Regions from separate parts of the Homo sapiens genome. Here all the other regions are linked to region 2. The links come from fine-mapping of genetic effects on gene expression. A gene starts in region 2. Each other region holds a variant in brackets. All regions are shown on one strand. Distances are between the middles of the regions.

Region 1 (5,000 bases), 26 kb after region 2:
AATGAACCTGCCTTTAATGGCTCAGGATTTAGTCATCATGTTGCATAGGTCACAAAGAAGGAAGCAACAAAATAATGAAAGCAGGGATTTATTGAAAACGAAAGTACACTCCACAGTGTGGGAGTGGGCCGAGCAGCGGGCTCAAGGGCACGGATACAGAATCTTCTTGGGTCTAAATACCCACTAGAAGTTTCCCATTGGCCACTTCATGCTCACCTCTTGTAAATGAAGTGGTAGCCTGCAGTTAGTCTGATTGGTTGCGGAAAGCAGCCACTCAGAGGCTAAGGTGAAGTTACAAAGTTATGCTTCTATGCAAATGAAAAGTAGACAAAGTTATACTTCTCTGCAAACTAAGACTCCACCAGCAATCAGTCTGAGTGGTTCCGGACAGCCAGTTTCCCACCTGCCATGCAGAAAAGGTCAAAGGGAGCAGCCTCTGGTCCTTTTGTTACTTAGTCATGGAAAGTTAGGGTTTTCCTTTCAATGTAGTTGTAGGAAGTCTGTGTGAAACAACCTTAAGTTCTTTGCCTCTAGATCCTATTCTTCTGCCTCAGGCTTATCTTTTTTGTGATTGAGAAAATTTTGATTTTTTTCCTGTATCTGTAATAGATGAGAAAAGTAAAAACGTTGATTTGACATCAGTTACTTTTCCTTTATAGATTGACTACAAGGGGACATTGTTGAATAGATTATGTGTGTTTTTGTTGTTGTTGTTGTTGTTTTTTGAGACAGAGTCTCGCTCTGTCACCTGGGCTGGAGTGCAGTGGCTCAATCTCGGCTCACTGCAACTTCTACTTCTTGGGTTTTAGTGGTTCTCCTGCCTCAGCCTCCCGAGTAGCTGGGATTACAGGTGCCCGTCACCACACCTGGCTAATTTTTGTAAATTTCAGTAGAGATGCGGTTTCACCATGTTGGCCAGGCTGGTCTTGAACTCCAGACCATAAGTGATCTGCCTGCCTCGGCCTCCCAAAGTGTTGGGATTACAGGTGTGAGCCACCGCTCCTGGCCTGTGTGTTGTTTTTTGAGACAGAGTCTTGCTCTGTTGCCCAGGCTGAAGTGCAGCAGCATGATCTCGGCTCACTATAACCTCTGCCTCCCGGGCTCAAGTGATTCTTGTGTCTCAGCCTCCTGAGTAACAGGATTACAAGTGTGTGCTACCATGCCCAGCTAATTTTTGTAGAGACGAGGTTTCGCCATGTTGGCCAGGCTAGTCTCCAACTCCTGACTCAAGTGATCCACCCGCTTCGGCCTCCCAAAGTGCTGGGATTACAGGTGTGAGCACTGTGCTTGGCCGATTATGCTGTTTTAATATATAAATAAATGTGTTTGTATTTCAACAAAATTGTATGATTAATAGTTGGCAGTCCTTTGGGAAGTATTTTTTTGTAAGACACTTAGGCTATTTACTGACTGAAATATAGAGACATGACTTTTTTTTTTTTTGATACAGAGTCTTGCTCTGTTGCCCAGGCTGGAGTGCAGTGGCGCGATCTCGGCTCACTGCAACCTCCGCCTCCCGGGTTCACGTCATTCTCCTGCCTCAGCCTCCCGAGTAGCTGGGACTACAGGCGTCCGCCACCACGCCTGGCTAATTTTTTGTATTTTTAGTAGAGACAGGATTTCACCGTGTTAGCCAGGATGGTATCGATCTCCTGACTTCATGATCTGCCCGCCTCGGCCTCCCAAAGTGCTGGGATTACAGGCGTGAGCCACTGTGCCCGGCCAGACGTGACTTTTATGATTATAGGGTTGGTATAGATTAAGGTGGCTTTTGGTATAGTGCAAAATCCAAGGACTAGGAGAAAGCTTTGCCACTGATTGCTAGAAGAACAAATTCTCTGGGTCTCAACCTCACTACCTGTAGAATGAAGAGAGTGGGCCAGATGCTCGAGTTTTCTTCCTGTTCTAAGATTAGTTTCTATGAGCCTGTGTCTTCTGTTTATATTTAGGGGTGTTAAAGTTTTTGGATTAAATACTGAATACTGTTCCCTTCCTTGAAGCAGATTTCAGTATGTGCTAGTTACACTTTTAGTTATGGTCTCTGAGCATCGTATTTTAAAAAGCCCTGTTGATCATTTCTTATTATGCCAACAATTAAATTTGTTACCTTTTTTTTTCAGCAACCTGGAAAGACCTTTCTGGCCATAGGTGGCGCTGTTGTACACATATATTTTTAATGTCCTAATTTCCCTGTTGGTGAAAGAAGACTTAGACAAGGCTTCCTTCATTTGAATTTTGCTGTTGTTGTTGTTTAATGCTTTAGAATAGCACTATGCCCATTATATTTGGATACCTGGAAAAGTATTCTAGTTATTTTTATTATGTCATTTCAGCATGAAAATTTCAGATGTGCAATGTGGACAGTGGTGAAATTGGACTTTTCTTCCAATGTCAGAAGGCAGTCAGCCATGATTTATAAAAGAGATAGAAACTGTCTGGAGCACCTTAAAGCTGAA[A/G]AGAATCTGGAACTCCCTGAGTATTGCACCCAGTTTTGCATGTTTGCTAGTGGGTGGTGTTGTGGTGTCATGGAAAAGCCTCGTTCAGCTGGCTTGTGTCTGAATGCAAGTCCTACAGTTCTTTCTCAGGTGCCCCCCACCTCCTCGCTCTGCATCTATGAGCAGGGGCTCCTAATTTCTGCTTTGTAGAATTGTGAGAATTAGAGAGAATGTGTGCAAAATGTTTAGCGTGGCAGTCATCTCATAAAATATCTCACGACCATTAGCTATTATTTTATATGAAGTCATCATTTTATAGTGTTTGGAAATTACTAAGGCATTGAAATAGGAAAAATGTTTTCGTGAAGAGAGACTCAGGAAATGAAGGAAATATTTGAGGTGGGTCAGTAGTTTTTATTTTTATTTTTTTTTTTGAGACAGAGTCTCACTCTGTCGCCGAGGCCGGAGTGCAGTAGCTCACTGCAACCTCTGTCTCCTGGGTTCAAGCAATTCTCCTGCCTCAGCCTCCCGAGTAGCTGGGATTACAGGCACCCACCACTACGCCCGGCTAGTTTTTATATTTTTAGTAGAGACGGGGTTTCACCATGTTGGCCAGGCTGGTCTTGAACTCCTGACCTCAGGTGATCCGCCTGCCTTGGCCTCCCAAAGTGCTGGGATTACAGGCGTGAGCCACCGCGCCCGGCGAGGAGGGTCAGTAGTTCTTATACCCATAATTTAGCTGCAGGTTTAGAGACATGGCCGTTATGTAGCCATCTTGACCTACCCAAGCCACAGAATTATTTGTGGATTAGTATATGTTGGGGCTTAAAGGGGCCCAATAAAAACACCCCTGTTTTCTTCAACAACCAACTGAGAGACGAGACAAGAGTAAGGTAGAGAATAAAAATTCCGCCCTTATTAGTGATGAAACCACATTCTCTGCCGGGCATGGTGGCTCACACCTGTAATCCTAGCACTTTGGGAGGCCACAGTGCATGGATCGCTTGAGCCCAGGAATTTGAGACCAGCCTGGGCAACATGGTGAAATCCTATCTCTACAAAAAATACAAAAAATTAGCCTGGGATGTTGGCGCGTGCCTGTAGTCCCAGCTACTCAAGAGGCTGAGTTGGGAGGATTGCTTGAGCCCAGGAGGCAGAGGTTGCAGTGAGCTGAGATTCTGCCACTGCACTCCAGCCTGGGCTACAGGGCAAGACCTTGTCTTAAAAAACAAAAAACAACCCCCACATTTTCCATGAACTTGAGGGATGCAGAAAAATGGGCATCCTACTACTGTGTGTCCAAGATCTGGTGGCTCTGGGCCACAGCAGACCTTCCTACGAGGGGCCCTCTCCCTGTCAGCCATAGGCATGGCGGAGCAGAACATCCCGTGTGCTTCCTGAGTGCAGCACCCAAGGGCAAAAGAAGGGGTTCACATGCCCAGCTTGTCTCCCAAACTCATCTTACACCTCACTCCACTTGGGTGGGGGAGGAATGGGGGTGGGCAAGAGGTCAGTGGTGCTTAGGACAAAGCCTTTATTATGGAAACCAGAGGAGTGAAGAGCAAGTGCCATCTTCCCCCTCAGTTTAAATAGGTCATGGGGTGACAGTTCTTTCTTTGTAACACAGAAATAAGGATATCCTTTGCTATTTAGACTAGTAAGGAAATACAAAGGATGATTAGAAGGGACATTTGTAAAATCACTGTAACAGATAACATTTTTTTTTTTTTTTTGGGATGGAGTCTCACTCTGTCATCCAGGCTGGAGTGCAATGTCGTGATCTCGGCTCACTGCAACCTCTGCGTCCCGGGTTCGAGTGATTCTCCTGCCTCAGCCTCCCAAGTAGCTGGGATTACAGGCGCCTGCCACCTCGCCCAGCTAATTTTTGTATGTTTAGTGGAGACACGGTTTCGCTATGTTGGCCAAGCTGGTCTCGAACTCCTGACATCAGGTGATCTGCCCACCTCGGCCTCCCAAAGTGCTGGAATTACAGGCGTGAGCCACCACACCTGGCTGATAACATCTGTTGAACATTTAAAATGTGCTACACACATTTTATTTATTTTTATTTTTTTGAGATAGAGTCTCACTCTGTTGCCAGGCTGGAGTGCAATGGCACAATCTTGGCTCACTGCAACCGCTGCCTCCCGGGTTCAAGCAATTCTCGTGCCTCAGCCTCCCCAGTAGCTGGGATTACAGGTGTGCACCACCATGACCAGCTAATTTTCGTATTTTTAGTAGAGATGTGGGTTCACCATGTTGGCCAGGCTGGTCGCAAACTCCTGACCTCAAGTGATCCACCCACCTCGGCCTCTACACACATTTTATATACACCAATTTAACCCTTTAATCTTCACAACAACCAGATAAGGTAGGTTGGATTATTATCCCAGTTTTACAGATGTGGAAACTGAGGCATAGACAGGTTGAGGAACTTGACCAAGGTTATGGAGCTAGTAAGTGGCAGAGCTGGGATTTAAATCCTGGCAGTTGGCCAGGTGCAGTGGCTCACACCTGTAATCCCAGCACTGGGAGGCCACGGTGGGCAGATCACGAGGTCAGGAG
Region 2 (5,000 bases):
GCAAAAAGTAGAGTCTGTGGGGTCTGACAGCCCTGGATTTGAATCCCTAAATAGCACCAGCCATTTGTGTGACCCCAGCCAAGTAGGGTATCCTTTCTGGACTTCAGCACTAAAAATAGCTCCCTTGCTTGGATCTTATGAGGTAAGCTTGGAGCCTAGTTTCTGCACTCAGACCTCCATTAGCAGTGGCCTTTTAAATGTATCTTTTCTGTATTCTCTGTTAAGCCCATACGCTCTTTTGTTTATTTATTCATTTAAAAAAAATAAAAAAAACCACTTTTTTTTTGAGACAGGGTCTTGCTGTCTCTCCCAGGCTAGAGTGATCATGGTTTACTGCAGCCTCGACCTGGCTGGACTCAAGCGATCCTCTTGCCTCAGTCTCCTGAGTAGCTGTGGCTACAGGTTTGTGCCATCCTGCCCAGCTAATTTTGGTATTTTTTCCAAGAGACAGAGTTTCCCTGTGTTGCCCAGGCTGGTCTTAAACTCCTGGGCTCAAGCAATCCGTCTGCTTCGGCCTCCCAAAGTGCTGGGATTACAGCTGTGAGCCACTGCACGGCCTCCATGCGGTCGTAACACCATGAGGTAGCCACGTTGGGCAGCTTGTGCGTTGTCAGGGAGACACTCTTCCTCAGCCCCTGGGCACCTCTGTTGAAAACTTCCTGGCTGTCTGGCAGGCTGGAAATCAGCTCTATTTGTTTTGCCCTGAAGATATGTTTTATTTATAACTCATTCTGACTCTGTAGAAAATAATTCAATAAAAACTCAATTGGTTTTCCACTAGCCCTGAGCAGGGATGAGGGATAGTATCTTATTTTATAACACATGTGATAATAAAACAGCCCTGGTCACATAGCCCAGAGCGGGTAAGTGCCTGCTGGCTGAAAGGAAAAATGCTGGCTCAGACCATTTCTCCCTTGCTGCTGTATGTGCTGAGAAAACCACTCCTGTCCTCTTTACTTTTCCATTTTAGGATTTTTTTTTTTTTTTTTTTTGAGATGGGCTCTCTCTGTCACCCAGGCTGGAGTGCAGTGGTGTGATCTTGGTTTACTGCAGCCCCCGCCTCCCGGGTTCAAGAGATTCTCCTGCCTCAGACTGCCTAGTAGCTGGGATTACAGGCATGTACCACCACGCTCAACTAATTTTTGTATTTTTAGTGGAGACTGGAGTTTCACCATGTTGCCCAGGATGATCTTGAACTCCTGACCTCAGGTGATCCACCCGCCTTGGCTTCCCGAAGTGCTGAGATTACAGGTGTGAGCCACCACACCCAGCCCTTTTTAGTGTTTGTTGTTGTTGTTGTTTGAGATAGAGTTTTGCAGTTGTTGCCCAGGCTGGAGTGCAATCGCATGATCTCGGCTCACTGAAACCTCTGTCTTCCAGGTTCAAGCGATTCTCCTGCCTCAGCCTGCTGAGTAGCTGGGATTACAGGCGCGCGCCACCACATCTGGCTAATTTTGTATTTTTAGTAGAGACGGGGTTTCACCATGTTGGCCAGGCTGGTCTTGAACTCCTAACCTCAAGTGATCCACCCGCCTCAGTCTCCCAAAGTGTTGGGATTACAGGTGTGAGCCATTTCTCCTGGCCAGGATTTTTTAATTGAAAAAGAAATACATGTACATGTTAAAAGATTCAAACAGAACATTAAACATACATAACGGAGAGCGGCTCTCTGTTTTCAATTTTCCCTGCGGATGCCACTGTTAATTCATGTGCTGGGCATCTTAAGTCTGTAAGCCTCCCCCATCTCCTGCTTTATTTTATTTTATTTTTGAACCCAGAGGGGTTTAAATCCTTAAATGGCTTCTGCCCGCACTTAGCAAGCTTGGCGCCTTGGCACTGAACTAACGACAGCTGTCCTAGCCCCTGTCGCCTCTTTGGAACCTTTTATGTGGATGGATTGTTGGGGCCCTCAAAGTCGGGAGTGCCATGGTGCCAGCTGGGGATCAAGACCGCGCGCCACACAGGGGGAAGCCGGCCCAGGCTGGGGCTCGCACCTCACGTGCCTCCCGGGCCCTGCGATCCTGGAGGCGCTCCCAGGCCGCGCGCGCCACGGTCACCCACCCACGTGGGGGGCACGACCGTGGGAGTCACGGGGGGTACCGTGAGGGTCACAGGGGGTGCCGCAGGGATCCACAGTGGGCTTCCGCGGGGCCTCCACCCCTGAGCTTCACAGAGGAAGTGAAATTTGAGCTGCGCGCCCTGAAGGACTGGTAAGCGGCGGGGACAGAACTGGGCCTCCTTCCAGCTGCGCCGCCCCAGGTGCAGAAGCTTTCCTCCTAGTCTCTGTTCTCTTGCTCCGGTCCCTCCCTCCCTCCTCGCTCCATCTCCCTCCATCTCCCTCCTTCCCTCCTCCTCTTCCTCCCTCCTTTCACCCCTCCTTTTTCCCTCCCTCCTCCCTCCTCCACCCTCTCCCTGTCCCCCGCTTCTCTCTCTCGCTGCCCCTCCCTCCTTCTTTCACCCCTCCTCCTCCTACTCTCCTCCTCCTCCCTCCCCGTCCCCGCTTCTCTCCCTCGCTCCTCCTCCCTCCTTCTTTCACCCCACCTTTTTCTCTCCCTCCTCCCTCCTCCTCCTCCCTCCCCATGTCCCCTCCCTCCCTGTCCCCTCTTCTCTCCCTCGCTCCTCCTTCCTCTTTTCTCCCTCGCTCCTACCCCCTTGCTTCCCTCGCGTCTCTTGCAAAACCCGGGACGGATCGGGGGCCCAGGCCTGGCCTCCGCGCACGCGCAGGAGCAGCGCCGGCTCGGCCGCCAGTAGGAAGCGCCAGCCCAGAGCCTGGGAAGTGGCCGCAGAGGCTGCTCGGCCCCGCTGCCCGCCAGGTCGTGGGCTCCCGCTCCGGGCCCGGGGCCACCGGCTGTGTAAGTGCAAAGCGGGGGGGCTCCCGGTCAGGCAATTCGGACCGGCTGCGGGGAGGGCTGCGCGGCTGGCCGTGGAGTCGGCGCGTCCCGCGGAGGGGCTCGCCCGGCCCTCACCTGTCCGGGCGGAGCCCGCCACACCTGTCCGGGTCCGCTGCCGGGCCGGGGTTCAGCGTGCACCTGCTCGAGGCGCCCTTGCTCCTGTTGGCGCTCTGCTTACATCTGTCCAAGGCCGTGTCCCACACCCGCTGAAGACTCGGCGGACACCTGTCCGGGACCCGGCCCACACCTGCTGCCCGGGCCGGCTCTGCTCTCCCGAGCTCGCGGCGGGGGTCCCCTTCCCCTCTGTGCCTCCGAGCTGTCTCCGCCTGGCTTCCCCTCCCGGGCCGTCCGCGGCGCTGGAGCCCCCCGCCCCTGGGCCTGGCTAAGCCCACTGGAGCCCGCGGGGTCTGGGACGCGCGGCTGGGGCCTGGGGCCCAGCACAGCCCACGCCCCCGGCGCTTTCCCCGCCCTGAGTTCCCGGACTTCTCCCCTAGCCCTTTCCCTCCTGTCTCCTGGATTCAAAGTGCCTGCGATCTAGCTGGGCGGCATCAGGCGGTGCTCTCTGGGATAAGCGCGCTGTCAACTCCAACTTATCCCAGGGAACCCTGGGGAGAGGAAGTCAGGCTACTGGCCTGTGGTCTTCTCCCTGTCAGCCCACCCCAATCCCCTCCACCCCTGCAGACCTTCCCAACGTGAATGTCTGTTAACCGAAAGTTTTCCCGTGTTAGGATGCGTTGTCTGTCTTCAAATGTTTCTATAGAGAGAGGAATTAAAACGCTGGAAGCAAGGCCCAGTTGAAAGGTATGGGGGAGTGACTTCCCTTCCATCCCTCACGGCCCCAGTTTAAACTGGTGACTGTCCCGTGTTTCTAAGGTAGTCATAGCTACCTATGACATCTTTATTTGTTAACCTGAAACAAAGCACCGGGTGGATGATGTTGGAGGCCCAGGAACATTGCCGTCCTAAAGATCTGGCTAGGTTTTGTTGTGTGTGTTTGTTCGTTTTTTTAATTGTGTGGAGGACTAGTAGTGTAGAGGGAAAAACAGTTGTCCGGAAACATGTAAACAATAAATGTTTCAGAAATCTAGTGTGTCAAAAATAACAGCTTCATTGAGCCTCGATTACCTGCCATAAAATCCACTGCTTTAAAGTGTACAATTCAGTGATTTTTCTTTTTTTTTTTTTTTTGAGACGGAGTCTCGCACTGTCGCCTGGGCTGGAGTGCAATGGCACGATCTTGGCTCACTGCACCCTCCGCCTCCTGGGTTCAAGCGATTCTCCTGCCTCAGCCTCCTGAGTAGCTGGGATTACAGGTGCCTGCCACCATGCCCGGCTACATTTTTTTTGTATTTTTAGTAGAGACGGGGTTTCACTCTGTTGGCCAGGCTGCTCTCGAACTCCTGACCTCGTGATCCACCCGCCTTGGCCTCCCAAAGTACTGGGATTACAGGCGTGAGCCACCATGCCTGGCCAATTCAGTAATTTTTAGTATATTCACACTTGTGTTACCATTGTCATTCCAGAACATTTTCATCACCCCAGAAAGAAACTCCATACCCATTAGCAGTCACTCCTCATTCCCCCCTCCGACAGCCCCTGGCGGCCACCGGTTTACTTTCGATATATATAGATTTGCATATTCAGGGCATTTCCTATTAATGGAATCATACAACATGTGGCCTTTTGTATTTAGCTTCTTTCATTCAGCACAGTGCTCTAAAGTTATTCATGTTGTGGCTTACATCAGCACTTTGTTCCTTTCTGTGGCTGAATAATATTCCATTGTATAGATTTAACATTTTGTGTATCAGGCAGTTGATGGACATTTGTGTTGTTTTCACTCCTTAGCTATTAAGAATAATGCTGTGCCTGGCCAGGCATGGTGGCTCACGCCTGTAATCCCAGCACTTTGGGAGGCCGAGGCGGGCAGATCACGAGGTCAAGAGATCGAGACCATCCCGGCCAACATGGTGAAACCCCCTCTCTACTAAAAATACAAAAATTAGCTGGGCATGGTGGTGGGCGCCTGTAGTCCCAGCTACTTGGGAGGCTGAGGCAGTAGAATCCCTTGAACCTGGGAGGCGGAGTTTGCAGTGAGCCGAGATCGCG
Region 3 (5,000 bases), 84 kb after region 2:
TGACCTCAGGTAATCTGCCTGCCTTAGCCTCCCAAAGTGCTGAGATTATCGGCATGAGCCACGTTGCCTGGCCTCAACACTGTGATTCTTTTTTTTTTTTTTTTTTTTTTTTTAGATGGAGTCTTGCTCTGTGCCCAGGCTAGAGTGCAGTGGCGCAATCCCGGCTCACTGCAAGTTCCGTCTCCCAAGTTCACGCCATTCTCCTGCCTCAGCCTCCCAAGTAGCTGGGACTACAGGTGCCTGCCACCACGCCTGGCTAATTTTTTGTATTTTTAGTAGAGACGGGGTTTCACTGTGTTGGCCAGGATGATCCTGATCTCCTGACCTTGTGATCTGCCCACCTCATCCTCCCAAAGTGCTAGGATTACAGGCGTGAGCCACCGCGCCCGGCCTCCAACACTGTGATTCTTTATGGACCTATCTCCTCTACTACTTCATGAAGTTTTGAGGGACCAGGTCTTATTGAAGTTTTTGTTTTGTTTTGCTTTGTTTTCATTCTTACTTTTGAATGATTAAAACTGAAAATGGATCCAATTACTTTAGACAGATGCTTTATAAAGGAAAATCCTTGGTGCATGCCTCATACCCCTACTCCGGGATATGAGAAAGTAGGTTATGTTTTTAACAAACTTTTTTGATAGACATATATGGAAAGTTTGTATAATTTTGAAGATGTATTTTCTCTCCATGTAATTATGGCTGGAAATAGCCGGAGAGAGGAGCAGAGTGTGTTTTCAAACCTGGGAATGTGTGGGGCCTGCTGTTTCCCATCCGGCATTCTCCCACGGTCATCATTTAGTTGAGTGCGGCCACCAGGCTGCCCCTACACATCTGTCACTGACTTGTTCTTCTGATCACTGCAAGTGCCCACGTTTGAGAAGGCTGATGAGGGTTAAGGCATTTTCTAGAGCATCAGTGGCTGGTTAACTTGGGGTTAGAACTTGTGGTGTCAAAGGCATTAACTAACAGTGATATTTCTGTTTCTTGAACACTCACTGAGAGTTTTAGGCTTATGCTCAGTGTTTGCATTATTTCATTGAGTCTTTTTGACAATCGTAATTAGATTTGATGATCCCTGTTTCTTAGGGATATGCAGATGTGGCCCTGGAACTCAGGACTTTACAGCTCCAGGCTGTATTCCTCCCTCTCCATCCTGCCAGAGACAAGTCCTGTGTCTGGAGTTTCCCTCTGATCTTGTCACTTTATTTCTTATTAACAGAATAAAGCAGGTCTAAACTTACTTTCTACTTGGAAATGGAATGGTGAGTTAATATTTGGATCCCTCAGAGTCTGCCTTGTGAATAAAGCTCCTTGTCTTGAGTAGTCTTGGAGCCACTTTCGTTGGAACCTCACATAAACATCTGGGCCCTGAACTTGGACTTCGTGACTGTGCAGCCTATTGAAAGATTAGAACAAAGATGTGCTGATTAATATGCCCTAAAAGAGCAGCAGGTTGGAAATGAGTTTGGGGATTTCATCTCATTTCAAGATTTCCTGAGGATCTTGGCCTAGCTTTGCCAGGGACCATTTTGTACTCCCCGGCTCCTTGTGCCATAGGTGCCTGTGTCGACCAAACATGGCTTTGTCCTGAGGCTCTCTGGGCTCATGGCTTCTCAGTCAATTGTCTGCCTAGTGCCCAAAAGCAGTTGCGCTCGAGCTTTTCCCATTAAGGAACCGTTTTAGGGCTTTAAAGTGATGTCAATTCCATTTGCAATGTAGTATTTATCATTTGACTTCTTATTACACTGAAATGATAAGAGGAATGAAGTAATATTATTACTGATCATAGTATTATTTACAACCTTTCATCTTAGATAGGTTCCATGAAAGAATCAATGGGAGTTCTAACGCATTGGTGGCCAAGGCATGTGACCTTCCCCGGCTGTCACCTTTATTTTAGATGGTGACCTCTTTACAGGCACTGGCTAAGATCAGTATTCGTCTTCTCTGCCCCCTTCTCTGCCCCAACATCTTTGATCATGTCTGGCACATAGTGGGTGCAGCTGAAGGTCTGGGCATTTCCAGATTTGTGATGAAGGCGTTAAGTACCCCCACCTCTTCTTTTTCTTTTTTTCTTTTCTTTTCTTTTTTTTTTTGACATGGAGTTTCACTCTTGTTGCCCAGGCTGGAGTGTAATGGCACAATCTTGGCTCACTGCAACCTCCGCCTCCTGGGTTCAAGCAATTCTTCTGCTTCAGCCTCTCAAGTAGCTGGGATTACAGGTATGCACCACCACGCCTGGCTAATTTTGTATTTTTTAGTAGAGACGGGGTTTCTCCATGTTGGTCAGGCTGGTCTCGAACTCCCAACCTCAGGTGATCTGCCTGCCTCGGCCTCCCAAAGTGCTGGGATTACAGGTGTGCGCCACTGCGCCCGGCCAACCCCTGCCTCCTCTTTACAGTCCTCTTCCACCCCGTCCCTGGCTGCTGTCCTCCAGCACTGGGGCTTCTGTTCGCTGCTGTACTGCACACTCCTGGAAAGGGACAGGCCATGTCCTACTCAAATTTGAATATTCACGGACCATAGACCTAGACAACAACTTCTAGATGAAAACATAGGATATCTTTGTGACCTCGGGCAAAGATTTTTCTCAGATGAGGACATAGAAGGCACTAACCATAGAAGAAAAAGCTGATAGATTGAGCTACATCACAGAGAAATGCTTTTGCTTATGAACACTCCCTTAGGGAAATAAATCGGCAACAGACCGGGAGGAAATATTTGCAAAACACATATAACTAAGGACTTGCATTCAGAATATATACAGAACTCGTACGACTCAGTAATAAAACAAACGATCTAATTTTAAAAACTGTCAGAAGATTT[G/A]AACAAGCGCTTCACAAAGGAAGATATACCAGTGGCCAGTGATCATATGAAAAAGGTTCAACATCATTAGTTTTCAGGGAAATGGAAGTTAAAGCCACCACAACGTCTAAAATAAAAAAGACTGATATCCTCATATGCTGGTGAGCAGGTGATATCCTCATATGCTGGTGAGCAGGTGATATCCTCATATGCTGGTGAGCAGGTGGAGCAACAGGGATTCTCACACATCGTCGGCGTCGGCATGACCTTTCACTGTAGGAAAAGTGGGGCTGGCAGAGATCCGATATGTAGGTAAATTGTGTGGGAGACACAGAGAAAGGACATTATGGAGTCCAGCATGGTTAGGAGAATTTAGGGAAAGAAGCAGCAGCTTCCCGCTGAAGGGCATGAGGACCAGCTTCTTGGAGAGGGTGGCATTGGAACCGAGTGTCCAAAGGGAGAGCCAGATGTGGCTGTGGAGGCATTGCAGGAGCAGAGAGCCTGTGTGCCCCGGCGGCGTCACCTAGTACAGCCTGCCTCATACGCTTCCACCCATGATTCTATGTCAAAGAGTATTTCATTGGACTTAGAGCAGCTATTTTGTTTATTTTTTCATTGATTTATTGTCATCCTCCCCACTGATTCTAAGCCAGGGGACTAGCCTGTCATTAGCATGGAGGCCCCCAGGGGTAGGAGTCTTAGCTTGTTTTGCTCACTGCTGTATCCTCTGCCACAAGAGTGGCTGGCACCAGAGTAGGGGTTCAGTAAATATGTGTTGACAGAATGAGAAAACAAATGAGTTAAAGTTGTTCAGTCTGGTGAGGTCATAGGTAGGCAGTGGGGCCTCGAATTTCCAGAGCAGGTTGGGGCTGAGGAGGGCCTGGCATGCCCGTGAAGGCATTTGGGCTCCATTTTACAGTCCTGAAGGGGTCTAGTGGTTTCAAGATGGGGATTGTCTTAGTCCGGTGAGGCTGCTGTCACAAAATGCCACAGACTGGGTGGCTGATAAACAATAGAAATGTATTGTGCACAGTTCTAGAGGCTAGAAGTCCATGATCCAGGTGCCAGCATGTTTGGTGTCTGGGGAGGGCCCACTTGCTTGTTCATAGACCGCCGTCTTTTCTCTGTGTTCTCACATGGTGCAACAGGTGAGCTAGCTCTTTAGGGTCTCTTCTTATAAGGGCACTAATTCCATTTGTGAGTGCTTCACCCCCTGACCCAATCACTTTTTAAAGTCCCCACCTCCTAATTCCATCACCTTGGGGGCTAGGCTTTCAACATGTGAATTTTGGGGAGGCACAAACATTCAAACCGTGGCTCGGGTGATGGGCTCTGAGCCATGTCTCAGGAACCTAAGTCTGGCAGGGGTGTGTGGACAGGTGAAGGAAGGTCGAGAGGTGGTAGGAAGACAATGCCGATTCCTCTTCCAGATGAGGGCTGACGAGGGCCCCATCGAGGCCATGGCAGTGAGCGCGGAGGAGAGGGGATGGAGGGAGGGTTTGGAGGCCCAAGTTGGAAGGGCGTTCAAGCTAAGGCTCTGTACTCACAGAAACATCAGGGAAACATTCATCGTCCAGGGCAGAGGAGGGAGAGAAGCGCTTCCTTAACAGTGCTCCTGGAGCAGCAGAGTGGGCTCTGCCTTCCTTCTTCTCTGAAGGCGCTGTGCAGTGGGCAGGGCCCAGGCCCAGAGTCAGGTCTTGTCCCTGATACTTCTTGGCTGTGTGATTTTGCACAGGTGATTAATGTGTCCCTGAGCTGTTAATGTCCTTATTTGCCAGCTCACAGGATGCTTGTATTGAGTAAATCAGGTACGTTAAGTCTGCTGCCATACAGTAGGTGCTGAAGAAACAGAAGTTGTTGGCTGGGCGTGGTGGCTCACACCTGTAATCCCAGCACTTTGGGAGACTGAGGCAGGCAGATCACCTGAGGTCAGGAGTTCGAGACCAGCCTGGTTAACATGGTGAAATCCCGTCTCTACTGAAAGTACAAAAATTAGCCAGCATGGGGGTGGGTGCTTGTAATCTCAGCTACACTGGAGGATGAGGCAGGAGAATCTCTTGAACCCGGGAGGTGGAGGTTGCAGTGAGCCAAGATCGTACCACTGCACTCCAGCCTGAGTGACAGAGTGAGACTCCGTCTCAAAAAAAAAAGAAAAGAAACAGAAGTTATGATTGCTACACTACAGGGTTGTTGGG
Region 4 (5,000 bases), 48 kb after region 2:
ACGTTGATGCATTCAATACCTTTATCTACCCCCCAGACCTTATTTGCATTCCACCAGCTGTTCCAATACAGCAGTTCTATTTCCTGATGCGGGATCCAGTCCAGGATCACACACGGCATTTAGTGTTTATGGCACTTAGTATCGTCTCAGCCTATCTTCGTTTTTCATGATAATTGATATTTCTGAAGAATGCAGGCCATTTATTTTGTGGAATGTTCTCACTTTGTGTTTGCCTGAAGTTGCTTTTTGATTATGAGGTTTTGCATTTTGGCAGGGCAGAAGGAGGGGTCAAGTGATCCATCATGCATTAAATCAGAGGCACATGAGGTTCATTTGTCCCATTACTGGTGAGGCTAACTTTGATAATTGGTTAAAGTGGAGTCTGATGGAGTTTTCCACTGTAAAGTTACTATTTTTCTCGATGTAAATAATAAGTAATTTGTGGGAAATAGTTTGAGACTGTATACATCTTGTTTGTCATCACACTTTCACCCACTGGTTCTGGCTGATTCAGTGAAGAGTTTCACCTGAGTCAGTTATTACTGTGCTGGCTGCCAAATGGCGATTTTCTTGCTTCATCATTCCTTATGTGTTTATTCGCATTTTACTATAAGCAGGAGCTTTTTTTTTCTTTTCTCCTTCTTTCTTTCCATCCATCCACTTATTGTTATGGACTTATGGATCATTATTTTTTTAGTAGGTTCTAATCCATTGCTATTATTCTTTATTTTGTAGCTCATTGGCTAGATTTGGCCAATGGAAGCTCTTCAAGCTGATTCTTAAAACCTTTTGACATGTTCCTCAATCAGTTATTGAACATATGTTTACTTTCAGGCTCAAGATATTTTAGGTTCAGGCCGGGCACGGTGGCTCATACCTGTAATCCCAGCACTTTGGGAATTTGAGGCAGGCAGATCACCTGAAGTCAGGAGTTCAAGACCAGCCTGGCCAACATGGCAAAACCCCGTCTCTACTAAAAATACAAAAATTAGCTGAGCGTGGTGGTGGGTGCCTGTAGTCCCAGCTACTTGGGAGGCTGAGGCAGGAGAATCGCTGGAACCTGGGAGGCGGAGGTTGCAGTGAGCCAAGATTTCGCCACTGCACTCCAGCCTGGGCGACAAGAATGAGACTCCATCTCAAAAACATAGAAAGATATTTTAGGTTCATTTTGTACTTTCCCTGTTCCAGCTCTGGAATCGGACGTTTTTCTAAGGAGTTTTAGTTTCTTTTGTTGGAAAGTGGTATTTAGAAACCAAGGTCTGGTCACTAAGCATGCTCATTGCTCCTAAGGTTCATTGATTCTAGGCCCTTTGAGAAGTTCTACTGTTATGTCAAGTTCATACTAACTAACTAACAAAACCCGTACCTAGAGTTAGAGTTCAAGGATTGGTTGTGGTTCTTTTGGTTATTTATCCTTGGTCATGATACCAAGGATAAATACACAGGGTGCTGCAGTCAGAGGTTACTTGAATTTGTCCTTTAATGCTTCCTGTCAGTGTGATTATGTTATTTGAAATGTAATTATTGCTGTTTATATATCATTAATGAGTTTCCCCATCTTTGCTGATTTTTAAAATCTTTTTTCCTTTTTTTATTTTTACAGTTCTTTGAGTTGCTGTTTTATATTTCTAAATCTATATAATTTTTTTTTTTTTTGAGACAGTCTCGCTCTGTCACCCAGGCTAGAATGCAGTGGTACAGTCTCAGCTCACTGCAAGCTCTGCCTCCTGTGTTCACGCCATTCTCCTGCCTCAGCCTCCCGAGTAGCTGGGACTACAGGTGCCCGCCACCACGCCTGGCTAATTTTTTGTATTTTTAGTAGAGATGGAGTTTCACCATGTTAGCCAGGATGGTTTTGATCTCCTGACCTTGTGGTCCGCCCGCCTCGGCCTTCCGAAGTGCTGGGATTACAGGCGTGAGCCACTGCGCCCGGCCTTTTTTTTTGTTGTTGTTTTATTTTTGAGATGGAGTCTTGCTCTGTTGCCCAGGCTGGAGTGCAGTGGCATGATCTTGGCTCACTGCAATCTCTGCTTCCCGGGTTGAAGCAATTCTTGTGCCTCAGCCTCCTGAGTAGTTGGGACTACAGGCGCATGCCACCATGTCTGGCTAAATTTTGTATTTTTAATAGAGCTGGGGTTTTACCATGTTGGCCAGGCTGGTCTTGAACTCCTGGCCTCAGGCGATCTGTCTGCCGCAGCCTCCTAAAGGGCAGGGCTTACAGGCATGAGCCATTGCGCCTGGTCAAATCTATATAAAATGTTAATATGATTCCAAAAATCAAAACTATATAAAAAGGGTTACCCAGAGAAGTGCCACTTCCTCTCCTATTTTTTTTTTTTTTTTTTTTTTTTTTTTGGAGACAAGGTCTCATGCCCTCACCCAGGCTGGAGTGCAGTGGCATGATCACAGCTCACTGCAGCCTTGGCCTTCTGGGCTCAAGCAGTCCTCCTGCCTCAGCCTCCCAAGTAGCTGGGAATCACAGGCGTGTGCCACCATGCCTGGCTAATTTTCATGTGTTTTTTTGTGGAGATGGGATTTTGCCACGTTGATCAGGCTAGTCTTGAACTCTTGGGCTCAACCCAGGAGCCTTCCTTGGCCTCCCAAAGTGCTGGGGTTATAGGTGTGAGCCACTGCGCCCAGCGCCTCTCCTATTCTTTCCACCTCATTTCCCTACCCTTATATCATTTGTTCCTGGCCTTTTCTTCTTCTTATTTTTTAAATAAACACATTAATGTTCTTAATTCTTTTTCTTGTGCAAAAGGTAAGATATTACATATATTCTTTTGTACTTGGTGTTTTTTGTTCTATTTTGGTTGCTAATGTATCCTGGAGATCAGTCCATATCAGCTTATGGAGATCTTTCTCATCCACTTTCACAGCTGCGTGGCACACTAAGTGTGCAGGTACCGGGTTTTATTTCACCACTCTTCTGCATGTGGATGTTTGATTGTTTCCAGTGTTTGGGAGTTACAGATAATATATCAGCAAATCACATT[G/A]CATAGGTATGTTTCTGTACTGTTGAAGGTGTGTCTTCAGTGTAAATTCCTAGAAGTGGAATTACTGGGTCAAAAAGTAAACATAAATGTAGTGTTACTAGATCCTGCCAAAGTCTTCTTCATAAAGGCCGCATCATTCGCACTCACAGTAGCAGTGCATGCGAGTGTTTTCTACATATATACACCAACACTGTGTGTTGTCAGGCTTTTAACATTTTTGCCAACTAGATACGTGACAAATGGCATCTCTTACCATTAATGAAGTTGAATATCTTTTTAAATGCTTAAGGGTCATTTTTATGTTTTTCTTTTATGAATTATCTGCCCAAATCTTTTGGCCATTTTTTTTTTCTGTTGGATTTTTAGTTGTGTTTTTCTTTTTCAACTTTTGTGACCTTGATGTATGTGGAATTAGCCGTTTGTGATATATGTTGCATATATTTTTAAATCAGATTATCATTTATGTTTTGCTGTGTTTATAGTAATTTTGCTGAGTTTTTATGTGGTTGAATATATTAGTCTTTTATTGCGTTTAGGTTTGTGTGATAGAGAGCCTTTTCCTTTGTCCAGGTTTTAGAGGAATTTACCTGTGTTTTTTGAACTATGGTTTTCTGTTTTACATTCAGATCTCAGATCCATTTGGAGTTTACTCTTGTGTCTCCTGTGAGGTGTGGGTTTGATTTTTTTTTTTTTTTTTTCCAAATGGCCACTCAGGTGTCCCAGACCATTATTAAAAAGTCCATCTTGGCCCCAGTGATTCCAGGCACTGTGTCCTGGTGCTGGAGGACTCGATCCCACCCTGTGGCTTATGGATGCCTTGTCTTCCTGCCATTCCTCTGCAAAATAAAGCCTACAGTGCCCACGTAGCAGGGTTTTTGCTTTGTAGTTGGACAGCAGATGTTAGTGACCCAGGCTGGTGCTAGCCTGTTAGCCATTGCTGAAATTATTGCCACACTGGTTCTTGGTGTATCTAAGCCCTTTTTGTGCTTCTCTCTAGGAGAGAAAGGCAAACCTTTCTCAAGCGGCATCCATCTCTGCTGTCTTCCTTCTTTTTTTTGCTTTATCTTATGTGTATGTCTGGGTTTCCAGTTTTGTGCCTTGTATACAGTCTTGTGTGGTAGCAGCTCAGTACCTATCTCTTTAGTGAATGATGAAAGCATTGTTGGGCTGATACTTGAGAACCTTTTTGGTGGTGCCTTTTTCAACCTTCCCCCCTCCCCGTGACTTCTCATCCATGCTCTTTCTTTGTCTCTCCTCCCATCTGGGTCTTAGCCTCCTGTGGCATTGATTTTCCTGCCTGTAATCTACAGGCTATGGGTCTTGATGGCTCTGGTCCACTAGTTCATGATGACATCTCATACGGGCTGTCACAACTTTACAGATGTCAAGAAAGATCAAATCTATGGCTTACTAGTGTTTCTAGAACTTATTAGTCTTTTGTTGAATGAAATTAAATTGGTCTGACCCACTAAGCTCTCTTGGGAGCGATGCTCTTGTTATTTTCCTATGGTTTATATTTTTCTTGGTTGCTCCACATAGAAATTTTTCCTCTAGCCTTGATGTTGAAATTAAGTTTATCAGCTAGACGCAGTGGCTCACACCTGTAATTCTAGCACTTTGGGAGGTCGAGTTGGACAGATCGCTTGAGGTCAGGAGTTCAAGACCAGCTTGGCTAACATGGTGAAACCCCATCTCTACTAAAAATACAAAAATTAGTGGGGCTTGCTGGTGGGTGCCTGTCATCCCAGCTACTTGGGAGGCTGAGGCAGGAGAATCACTTGATTGTAGCGAGGAGGGGGGTTGTAGCGAGCTGAGATCGTGCCACTGCACTCCAGTACCACTGCACTCCAGCCTGGGTGACAGAGAGAGAGACTCTGTTTCAAAGAAAAAAGAAATTAAGTTGATCAAATTAGCCCTCATGACTGGAGATGCCCTTTCTTTAAAAGGTGGAGGGAGCACTTGTTCCTTCTCCGTCGGGGGGATTTCCCTCTTATGCTTTGATCA

Which allele goes with the higher level. Alleles are on the strand shown, and positions count from the first base shown. SD is a standard deviation of normalised expression in the study named. Not every link is listed here.
As copies of G replace A in region 1, the expression in gastroesophageal junction of the gene that starts at base 2,747 in region 2 goes down (small effect, 0.24 SD a copy in GTEx).

What was found. PIP is the estimated chance that this variant, and not a neighbour inherited with it, causes the effect. A credible set is the group of variants that fine-mapping cannot tell apart.
Region 1: its variant is the best candidate, but not a certain one, in a credible set for the expression of TRAPPC9 in gastroesophageal junction (GTEx, PIP 0.74).
Region 3: its variant is the best candidate, but not a certain one, in a credible set for the expression of TRAPPC9 in whole blood (INTERVAL, PIP 0.65).
Region 4: its variant is the best candidate, but not a certain one, in a credible set for the expression of TRAPPC9 in skeletal muscle (GTEx, PIP 0.54).

Annotation. Positions count from the first base shown.
Region 1 is chr8:140,429,315-140,434,314 of GRCh38, reverse strand. All of the region lies in intron 4 of TRAPPC9 (trafficking protein particle complex subunit 9), which reads left to right. Among named protein-coding and RNA genes, the nearest start is that of TRAPPC9, 26 kb to the left of the region's middle. The variant A/G (reference allele first, on the strand shown) is at 2,457.
Region 2 is chr8:140,455,491-140,460,490 of GRCh38, reverse strand. TRAPPC9 (trafficking protein particle complex subunit 9) reads left to right here and starts at 2,747. Exons shown (of 23, transcript NM_001160372.4): 1 at 2,747-2,852. RefSeq lists silencers at 1,893-2,202, 2,323-2,562, 2,653-3,042, 3,153-3,202 and an enhancer at 1,975-2,493.
Region 3 is chr8:140,371,667-140,376,666 of GRCh38, reverse strand. All of the region lies in intron 7 of TRAPPC9 (trafficking protein particle complex subunit 9), which reads left to right. Among named protein-coding and RNA genes, the nearest start is that of TRAPPC9, 84 kb to the left of the region's middle. The variant G/A (reference allele first, on the strand shown) is at 2,827.
Region 4 is chr8:140,407,497-140,412,496 of GRCh38, reverse strand. The region is part of intron 5 of TRAPPC9 (trafficking protein particle complex subunit 9); the gene reads left to right. Among named protein-coding and RNA genes, the nearest start is that of TRAPPC9, 48 kb to the left of the region's middle. The variant G/A (reference allele first, on the strand shown) is at 2,997.